Linked DNA regions of Homo sapiens: region 2 is reported to be linked to region 1. Evidence: microRNA targets listed by miRTarBase, many of them from high-throughput screens and not tested one by one. Region 1 holds a microRNA gene; the other region holds the end of a gene's coding sequence.

What was found. Region 1 holds the annotated microRNA hsa-miR-2276-5p (GCCCUCUGUCACCUUGCAGACG, at 2,861-2,882, shown strand). A microRNA usually pairs through its seed, bases 2 to 8, with sites in the 3' UTR of a target mRNA and lowers its output. Matches are read on the target gene's strand: a 7mer-m8 pairs with bases 2 to 8, a 7mer-A1 pairs with bases 2 to 7 and ends in A, and an 8mer does both.
Region 2: miRTarBase lists RAB13 as a target of hsa-miR-2276-5p. Seed matches in the 3' UTR shown: 8mer at 965-972, 7mer-m8 at 992-998 and 7mer-A1 at 1,146-1,152.

Annotation. Positions count from the first base shown.
Region 1 is chr13:24,159,571-24,164,643 of GRCh38, forward strand. It overlaps MIR2276 (microRNA 2276), which reads left to right and starts at 2,846; the gene lies at 2,846-2,934. SPATA13 (spermatogenesis associated 13) reads left to right here and starts at 1,150. Exons shown (of 13, transcript NM_001166271.3): 1 at 1,150-1,362. RefSeq lists a silencer at 1,041-1,100.
Region 2 is chr1:153,977,947-153,983,010 of GRCh38, reverse strand. RAB13 (RAB13, member RAS oncogene family) reads left to right here. Exons shown (of 8, transcript NM_002870.5): 5 at 203-292; 6 at 411-476; 7 at 567-620; 8 at 835-1,361. The coding sequence ends at 912. JTB-DT (JTB divergent transcript) reads right to left here. Exons shown (of 1, transcript NR_186180.1): 1 at 3,851-5,064. Among named protein-coding and RNA genes, the nearest start is that of JTB-DT, 2.7 kb to the right of the region's middle. RefSeq lists a silencer at 4,864-5,064.

The DNA.
Region 1 (5,073 bases):
GCCCATGTTGTTACATTAAGATGAACTAAGTCCATTACTTACAGGAGGCTCACGCCGCATGCTGTTCATTCTGTGAGTTTTGAGAAATGCATAATGACATGAAGCCACCATTATAATGTCATACAGAGTTTTTTCAATATTTTAAAAAACATACATAAAATTAATTTTCACTTTTCATTGGGTAATATAATTTTTGTTTTTTATTTTACAGATTGTGGGTATTGTTCTTTGATTATAAAAGACAATAGACATTTATAAATAATAGTGCTGGCCACTAAATGAATCATCTAAAAAACTACACTGGTAGAAAGCATGCATTTATTTTATGAATTCCATTAGCTGCCTATCAGGGAACATGGAGCACTGGGGCACAGATCCCAGCACAGAAGGGTTTGCTTCTCTTCTGTGGTTTTCATGTCAATTAATGATTAGGCCTTGAGCCTCACAAGAAAGGTGATAGGCCTTTGAGTCGGTTTACTGCAACAGTCTACTCAAGACTTGCCCCAGGCCCTGGGAAACATGTAGGTTTAAAAATCCCTACCCTGCGTTTTCCTTTCACAGGGAGTGAACTTCTGGCCCAGGCAGTGGGCAGTGGGGCACGGTTGCCCCGGAGATGAGACTCCTCTTCCCGCCCTGGGGGGTGGGGGCTGGCTGGTGGCTGAGGGAACTATTTTTGTTTGTTTCTTTTTTTAAAAAACGGAGTCTGGCTGTGTCCTCCAGGTTGGAGTGCAGTGGCGCGATCTCGGCACACTGCAACCTCCGCCTCTCGGGTTCAAGTGATTCTCCTGCCTTAGCCTCCTGAGTAGCTGGGATCACAGGCGCCTGTCACCACGCCCGGTTAATTTTTATTTTTATTAGAGACGGGGTTTCACCATGTTGGCCAAGCTGCTCTCAAATTCCTGACCTCAGGTGATCCGCCCACCTCGGCCTCCAAAAGTGCTAGGATTACAGGCAAGAGCCACTGCGCCTGGCCGGGGAACTGTTTTTGATGGGTGGGGTCCCCGGCTGTGGTTGGTAGTGTGGGGGCGTGGCCGAGGGTGTGGCCTGAGGGAGTGAGCTAACCGGGGGCGTGGCCTGATATGGGGCGGGGGGAAGAGCCGGGCTGGGGGCGTGGCCTGGTGGGGAGCGGGGCTGGGGCGTGGCTTGGCTGAGTGTGCTGCCGCGGCGCGGGAGGAGAGTGTGCGTTGCGCTTTCTCCCGCGATCGCCCTGCCGGTCGCTAGCTCCGAGGGCGCGCACTGGATCCCAGGCTCCTCCGAGAGTGCGGCGACCTCGGGGCTCCGCCGGCACCGGAGGTGGCTCTGAGGGCAGGGACGTGTTGGACACGCTGACTTTGTAGGCTCCGCCAAGAGGCGCCGCAGGAGGTAAGACGGCTTCGGGCGCGCGGCTCTGCCGGGCGGGCGCGGGCATGGGCTGTTAGGTAGAATATCGGGAGGATTTGAGTCCCAGTGGACTGCCTCGGGGCTTCGGGATGTCCAGCTCCCAGCTGCTTGGCCTCTGCTTCCCCCGCCGGTGGAGGCTACCGGGTGCTCACCTGTTAGGTCCGTGCGCCCGCTCCCTGCCCGGCGGTGGCTCTGCGCCCTCTGGGCCACCCGGCACCATCGCTTTTGGGAGGACATGCACGTGGTGTTCTCGCAAAAGGCCGTTTCCAGCCGGAAGCCTGCAGGGAGGTCGCCTTGTAACTTCACCCGCGCTCCCAGCTCGCGGGGCCTGGCCTACAGGGGCGGCCGTGGGGGTGGCAGAGTCTGGGGAGCCTGGCGCGGCGGAGCCCTGTAACGCTCTGCTCCATCGGGTGGCGTGGCTGGTGCCTCCGGGGACCCGGAGCGATGCGGTTGGAGAGCTTAGTTTAGAAAGCAAGTTTCTCTTGGTACCAGCGGAGTCTCGTCCCAGGGGAAAGATTTTGGGACCCGGTGCCCATCGTCTGTGGACTGCAGGGAATGCATTGGCGGAGTTGGTTTGGTCCCATTCTGTGCAGGAGGTGGGGGAATTGGTACTCCAGCCCCAGGCAGGTAGAAGCCCGCGCTGCTGCCAGCGTCAGGGGGAGCTCGGGTGACTTGGGCTGGGCCACCCATCTGACTGCAAGGTTACAGAGCTTGAGCAAATTTCCCCTCCCTCCAAGTGCAGGAAAACCAAACCAAAGCAAGCAAACAAAACCCTGTGGGTCATTTGCTTCCCAGCATTGCATAGGGATGTGGATAAATAGAATAATACTGTGAATTTATTCAGCTCTTGTTCCCATGGCTTCCCATAGCCTTATATTATGCACCTCCCCCTGCCAGCATTTTCTCTGTCCCCACCTTCGGTTTTTGCTGCCTCGTGTTTTCTTCTCTGTGAACCTTTCCTGGTCACCCAGCGATTTGCTCTCCTTTATTCCCCTTGCTAACAGGCGGAGAAATCTCACTCCTTTTCTTTTTCCACCTTTCCCAACAAATTCTCCTTTTTTCCTAATGTCCCCCTCCCCCGTCTTGCAAACTTCCTCACTGCATTATTCTCGGGGTGCCTGTCATGCACCCTCCCTGTTCTCTGCCCTCCTCCCGCACTTTAGAGTTTCATGTGGCTTTGTCTTATTATCCCATATCCTAATTCTCATCTACCTCCCTTGGCCCCCACGTTTGCCATCTGCCTCCACCCAGTTCTCCCATCTCCTTCCTTATTTGTGCTCCCGTGCATATGCAGGTTTCTTCCTTGTTTCCCCATGTTTCTCCCACAGGTGCTTTCTTCCCTTTGCCCTACTTCTCCCTGGCAGGCGCTCTGCCCAGCCACAGCCTGCCCCGCCTGGAGGGCACACCTTGCCTCAGTGCCTTCTGCTGCGGTTTTCCATGCTCCATCAGCATCCCTGGGTTCCTTGTGTTCTTCCAGTCCGCCCTCTGTCACCTTGCAGACGGCTTTCTCTCCGAATGTCTGCAAGTGTCAGAGGCGAGGAGTGGCAGCTGCATCTCTGCAGGAGGACTCTGGATTTCAGGACCCTCCCTTCTGCCACTGCTTCTGACTGATTGTTTTCTTATTGAAGTCGTATCCTCTACATAGTTCTAGAATTAATGTCAATATTGATGTTAGGTAGCATCTACCAAACTCTGGGTGTGTGCCAAGCACTGTTCTGAGGGCTTAACGTGCATCAGTACTCATTTAAAATCCTCCACACATCCCTATAATGTAGGATCTACTACTGTCCCCATTTGACAGATGAGAAAAGGAAGGCTCAGAGGAGGTAACCGGCATGGCTTCTTGCCACTGCCTAGCAGTGGAGGCCCTCTTCTCACCAGACAGTGGAGCTTCCCTGCTGGGTGACCTCTTGAACTCAGGCATGCCTGGAGTTTAGCTTTGGAAAGGAGGTTGTTATATGACATGTTTTATTTAGTCTGCAATGTACACCAGTGGAGGACATGAATTCTATACCTGTAGGACAGTGCATGGAGAAAAACCTAATGCCGGCTGTCCCTCAGAAAGCCTGGGGCCAGTGCCTGGGCTGTCACCTCATCCATGCTATCAGTCTACTTTCCCTCTTAGCCACAGGAAGCCCTGAAGAAAGTGGCATAAAAATGACCTGGCTGGGCACAGTGGCTCATGCCTGTAATCCCAGCACTTTGGGAGGCCGAGGTAGGAGGATTGCTTGAGCCCAGGAGTTCAAGACCAGCTTAGGCAGCATAGCAAGACCCCATCTCTAAAAAATAAAAATAAGAAATCAGCTGGTTGTGATGGCGCACTCACCTGTAGTCCAAGGTGCTCAGGAGGCTGAGGTGAGAGGATCTCTTGAGCCTGGGAGGTTGAGACTGCAGTGAGCTATGATTTTGCCACTACACTGCAGCCTGGGTGACAGAACGAGAGACTCTGTCTCTAAAAAAATTAAGTTAAATTAAAAAAGAAGACTACTGCCAGCTGTCTCCTCCCGTGCATTGAGAGTTCCGTTTCACTTTAGCTGGACAGATCTTTATGGTCTCTGTTAGCTGTGTGACTGTATGAGTCTTATTTATATCCATTTCATTATGTAATCTTAAAGCCTTGTCCAAACATTTCTTTTTTAGTCTTTATCTTCCTAAGAGTTGGAGGCAAGTAGTATTTCTACTTTACAGATACTGAAGCAGAGCATGCACCTTGATAGCTGAAAGGGACTTTATATTCTACAGATGAGGAAACCGTGGTCCAGGGAAATAAAATGGCATATTCAAGGGAAAGCAGCAGGACAAAGTTGGCTCTAAGGCTTCTCTGGTTCAGGGCTCAATGCCTGGCCCTATAGCTTGGTAGGTTGACCTCTCTGTTTGCTGCTGGAAGCAACAAAGTTTCTTTCCCCTTCCTTTCCCTTGAGCTAAGAGGCATTGGAAGGTTTCACTTAGAAGGGGAACTCATCAGTGCTTTCCTTTCTTTTTTGTCTGAAAACTAAACATTTAAGAAATGTTTGCCTATGAGACATGTAATAGCATAAATGGGATCATAACATCACAGTGGTATAAATTCAAATGTTTTAGAAAGAACTATCATTGTTATTTCTAAAACACCAGGAATGAACACCAAATGTACATGGTTTTCTTGAGGGAAACTATATAATACATGGCAATTTGAAAATCAGTACCTGGAATGTTTAATTGTATTTTACATTTGTGGAGAGAAATGCATTGGTACAAAGTGCTTACCTGATTTTCCTCATCTTTGCATCACAAATGAAAGAGCAGTAAAGGGGGAGCATAGAGTAGGTTGCTGTTTTTCTGTTGGCCTCTGCTGTACCCACATCCTTCTCTGGACTCCCACTGAGCCCCCTTGCTCCTGCCTCTGCTCCCTCCATGTTTAATGCCTCTTTTGGCTCCCCAGGGAACCTGCAGGGTATTGTTGAATTGTGATGCTCACCTCCTCCATACCAGCCTGTCTTGACAGAATGAAACCCTGATGCCCTGAGGCAGGCATCCTATGTGATGGCTTCATCACTCCCTCCTAGGATGAGATGGGTGATCAGGTACCATCCTGGGGAGAAGGGAGGAAGCATTTGCGTGAGGTATCCTCTGTGTTCTGTGGTTTAGGTGAGGATGGTTATAACTGAGGAGCAAGTCAAGTTTCATTGCTCCCTAAATGAGATGGAGGTTCAG
Region 2 (5,064 bases), not on the chromosome of region 1:
TGGGATTACAGGCATGCACCACCATGCTCGGCTAATTTTGCATTTTTAGTAGAGACGGGTTTTCTCCATGTTGGTCAGGCTGATCTTGAACTCCTGCATCAGGTGATCCACCCGCCTTGGCCTCCCAAAGTGCTGGGATTACAGGCGTGAGCCACCGCTCCCAGCCGGCAGGACCTAACTTTTACTTGTCTTTTGCCCCCAGAATGCCTCGGCTGGGGTGGAGCGCCTCTTGCTGGGGAACAAATGTGACATGGAGGCCAAGAGGAAGGTGCAGAAGGAGCAGGCCGATAAGGTGAGGGCCAGGCTGAGCAATGTTCTAGAACTGGGCTGGGAGGGCCAAGATAGGTTGCATTGCAGAGGACTTGGCTGCTGTCCTTAATTCAATTCTCTTCCCACTTCACCCCTTATAGTTGGCTCGAGAGCATGGAATCCGATTTTTCGAAACTAGTGCTAAATCCAGTATGAATGTGGATGAGGTGAGATCCACACCCCCATCCCCGACCAAGAGAGGAAGTATTAGAAGGTAGATTCTCCTCCCTCCAAACTGACTCTGTTCCCCACTTTAGGCTTTTAGTTCCCTGGCCCGGGACATCTTGCTCAAGTCAGGAGGCCGGAGATCAGTAAGTTGGTTTTGCTGGACTAGGTACAACTCTGGGGTGTGTGTGTGTGTATGTATGTGTGTGTGTGTGTGTGTGTGTGTGTGTGTGTTGGTGTTGATAAAAACGGGGAGCAATGCTAAGATTTCTCATGAGGGTGGATTTACTTTAAACAGTTTATACCCTCCTACCCTAACCATCCATTCACACCATGACACCTGTGCCCTTCTCCCTCTAGGGAAACGGCAACAAGCCTCCCAGTACTGACCTGAAAACTTGTGACAAGAAGAACACCAACAAGTGCTCCCTGGGCTGAGGACCCTTTCTTGCCTCCCCACCCCGGAAGCTGAACCTGAGGGAGACAACGGCAGAGGGAGTGAGCAGGGGAGAAATAGCAGAGGGGCTTGGAGGGTCACATAGGTAGATGGTAAAGAGAATGAGGAGAAAAAGGAGAAAAGGGAAAAGCAGAAAGGAAAAAAAGGAAGAGAGAGGAAGGGAGAAGGGAGAGGAATGAATTGAGGAAGTGAAAGAAGGCAAGGAGGTAGGAAGAGAGGGAGGAGGAAAGGAAGGAGAGATGCCTCAGGCTTCAGACCTTACCTGGGTTTTCAGGGCAAACATAAATGTAAATACACTGATTTATTCTGTTACTAGATCAGGTTTTAGGGTCCTGCAAAAGGCTAGCTCGGCACTACACTAGGGAATTTGCTCCTGTTCTGTCACTTGTCATGGTCTTTCTTGGTATTAAAGGCCACCATTTGCACAAATGTTCCTGTTTTGGGTAACTTGGATTATTGTCAGAATTGTTCTCCACTCAAATCCAATTATTGTGTCTTCAAAGTGATTGATTTACCCAAATCAGGCTCGGTTTCTGTGGAACCAGGACTAATCCTACTGCTGTCTCTTCCCTAGCTGTTCTGTTGGTAAGGAAAATAGCAAAGAGCAGGAGGTAGAGTGATCTGAAGGTCTGGATATCCTCTTTCCGCCATGGGGTCCGGATGCCCTTGTGGGCAGAGCCTTGTCCTGAGCACAGGAAATTCCCAGCGAGAAGAACTCTAACAGTCCTAGCCTCAGGGAAATAACTGCACCTAGTGATTTATCCAGTGATTTGTGCAAGCTTCTTTGATTCTGCCAGCAATCCATTTAGTTATTTGATAGGCATTAATATCTGCTTTTATTAGTGAGGAAAATGAGAAGTTCATTTATTCATATATGTATATTGAGCATCTACTAAGTGCCAGGCACAATGGTCAGTTATTTTATTTATTTATTCATTTATTTTTAGGGACAGAGTCTTGCTCTGTCTCCGAGGCTGGAGTGCAATAGTGCGATCTCAGCTCACTGCAACCTCTGCCTCCTGCCTCAGCCTCTCAAGTAGCTGGGATTACAGGCGTGAGCCACCATGCCTGGCCAATAGTCAGTTAATATAGCCCTTTGGTGGTACTTACAAGCAGAGGGACAAGGACTTTTTTTCTTTTTTAAGACCGAGTGTGGCTCTGTCGCCCAGACTGGAGTGCAGTGGCACGATCCCAGCTCACTGCAACCTCTGCCTCCCGGGTTCAAGCGATTCTCCTGCCTCAGCCTCCCGAGTAGCTGGGATTACAGGCACGTGCCACCACACCTGGCTAACTTTTGTGTTTTTAGTGGAGACAGGGTTTTGTCATGTTGGCCAGGCTGGTCTTGAACGCCTGGGCTCGAGTGATCAGTCTGCCTCAGTCTCCCAAAGTGCTGGGGTTACAGGCGTGAGCCACTGCGCCCAGCCTGGGACAAGCAAACTTTAACAAAAACAGCTCTTTGGCTGGGCGTGGTGGATCACAACAGGAGTTCAAGACCAGCCTGGCCAGCATAGTGAAACCCCGTCTCTACTAAAAATACAAAAAAAAAAAAAAATTAGACAGGAGTGGTGGAGGGCGCCTGTAGTCCCAGCTACTTGGGAGGCTGAGGCAGGAGACTCACTTGAACCTGGGAGGCAGAGGTTGCAGTGAGTTGAGATCACACCACTGCACTCCAGCCTGGGTGACACAGCCAGACTCTGTCTCAAAAAAACAAAAACGAAAACAAAAACATCTCTTTGCTGAATAACAAAGATGGCAAAACTACTGGAAATGCAAAAGAAAATTCAGGCTTGGGCCGAGCACGTTGTTTCATGCCTGTAGTCCCAGCACTTTGGGAGGCCGAGGTGGGTGGATCACTTCAGGTTGGGAGTTTGAGACCAGCCTGGCCAACATGGCGAAACCCCATCTCTACTAAAAATACAAAAAAAATTAGCTGGGCATGGTGGTGGGTGCCTGTAATACCAGCTACTTGGGAGGCTGAGGGAGGAGAATCGCTTGAACCTAGGAGGCAGAGGTTACTGTGAGCAGAGTTCGCACCATTACACTCCAGCCTGGAGACAGAGCGAAACTCCATCTCAAAAAAAAAAAAAAAATTCAGGCTTGATGCACAGCATCCTTAAGTATATATATATTATATTATATTATATATTACAATGTATAATTATATATATTATATATTAAATATATAGGAAATATATAATATATATAACATGTATATGTTTATAAACATATAACATATTATATATAATATATAATTATATATTATACATATATATTAAATATATATTATAATTATATATTTAATATATAATATATTATGTTTAATATATAATTATATATAATTATATTATGTTTAATATATAATATATAATACATATTTTAATACATAATATATATATATCCCCCTTTCACCATACATAATATTTTTTACACAGCAAAATGTAATAACTTGATAAATGTAAGTATCCAAGCATTGATGAGGTAATGATAAACCTTATTTGTGGCTTATGCTTAAGTTCTTTTTTTTTTCTTTTGAGATGAATTCTTGCTCTTGTTGCCCAGGCTGGAGTACAATGGTGTGATCTCGGCTCACCGCAACCTCTACCTCCCGGGTTCAAGTGATTCTCCTGCCTCAGCCTCACGAGTACCTGGGATTACAGGCATATGGCACCATGCCCAGCTAATTCTGTATTTTTAGTGGAGACGGGGTTTCTCCATGTTGGTCAGGCTGGTCTTGAACTCCCGACCTCAGGTGATCCGCCCACCTCGGCCTCCCAAATTGCTGGGATTACAGGCGTGAGCCACTGCGCCCAGCTGTGTTTGAGTTCTGTAGTAAACTGTCCGGTAGGTTTAATTTGCTCAAGCGATGAGGAAAAGACTTGCACTTTGTGCCTCCTGGGAAAGAGACTAACGTCTTCAACATACCTTATGGCAGATATTTAATTTCAGAGTAGAGACCCCACTCTGATGCCTGGTAAGGTTATTGGAAGTGAAATATCACAAGATCTTACAGTTTGTTGTGAGATAAGGTAGGATTTGGTGAGGAGTAACAAATACTAGCAGATTTCGGCCCAAACTTCAATTATAGCTAAACATTACTGGAAAAAACCCCACAACCTACTTTATGTAACATATAACTACTCACACACATACACAAAAATAATACACACACAATTTCAGCAAACACAAATAATAATTTAAAGAAACAAATTCAAAATTAGAGCCAGGTATGGTGGCACATGCCTGAAATCCCAGCTACTTGGGAGGATCCCTGAAGACGAGAAGTTCCAGGCTGTAATGCGCTATGATGGCTCCTGTGACTTGCCACTGCACTCCAGTCTGGCAACATAGCCAGAGTCCATCTCGTTCAAAAACAAAAACAAACAAACAAAAAACGGCGAAATGAAGGCTCAGCCCTCATCAGGTTTAGGTGACAGAGCTAGACCCTGTCTAAGAAAAAAAATAAAATTAAATGAAAATTCGTTATCAGACAGTAAAGCATGAACCCACAGTGCTGGTCAAGTCACTGCAGATCTGAGTGTGTATCAAGGTTTAACTCCATAAGATGAAAAGCAGGCAATGAATCTTTGGCCTGGGTGTTGACAGTCTAGGCTCAAGCCTCAGCTTTCCCACTCATTAGCTTGCTGACCTTGGACAAGTCACTTATATTCTCTGAACTTACTCATGAAACGGAGATACATTTCATCTGCCTCTCGCAAGAAAAAGTCCTGGTAAATACACATTAGCATTTCCGTTTTACACAGAACACTGACAGATACTTTCCTAAGATCATGGAGTTAATAACCACCAGAACCTAGACTCAATACTTATGGAACTTCAAATCTCATGCTTTTCTCATTGCACTTATGATTACTCCATTATGTAGGAGCAAGGGAGAGTTGAGAGCATTTGAAGAGGTTATGCAAAGGACCAGCTCTGAGGAGTAGGCTTAGCAAAGTAACATGAGGGAAGGTAACACCGTTCATCTGTGTAGCGGAGTGGGAGCCAAGAGACAAGGAGAAAGTTTCATGTTCGTCATGTGTCTCGGATATTCCGGTTTCTGCAGGGACGAGAACGCGCAGTTTCGCCTCCATCCCTTGACCTCCAACACAGCTTCTCCACTGGATCATCGGTGG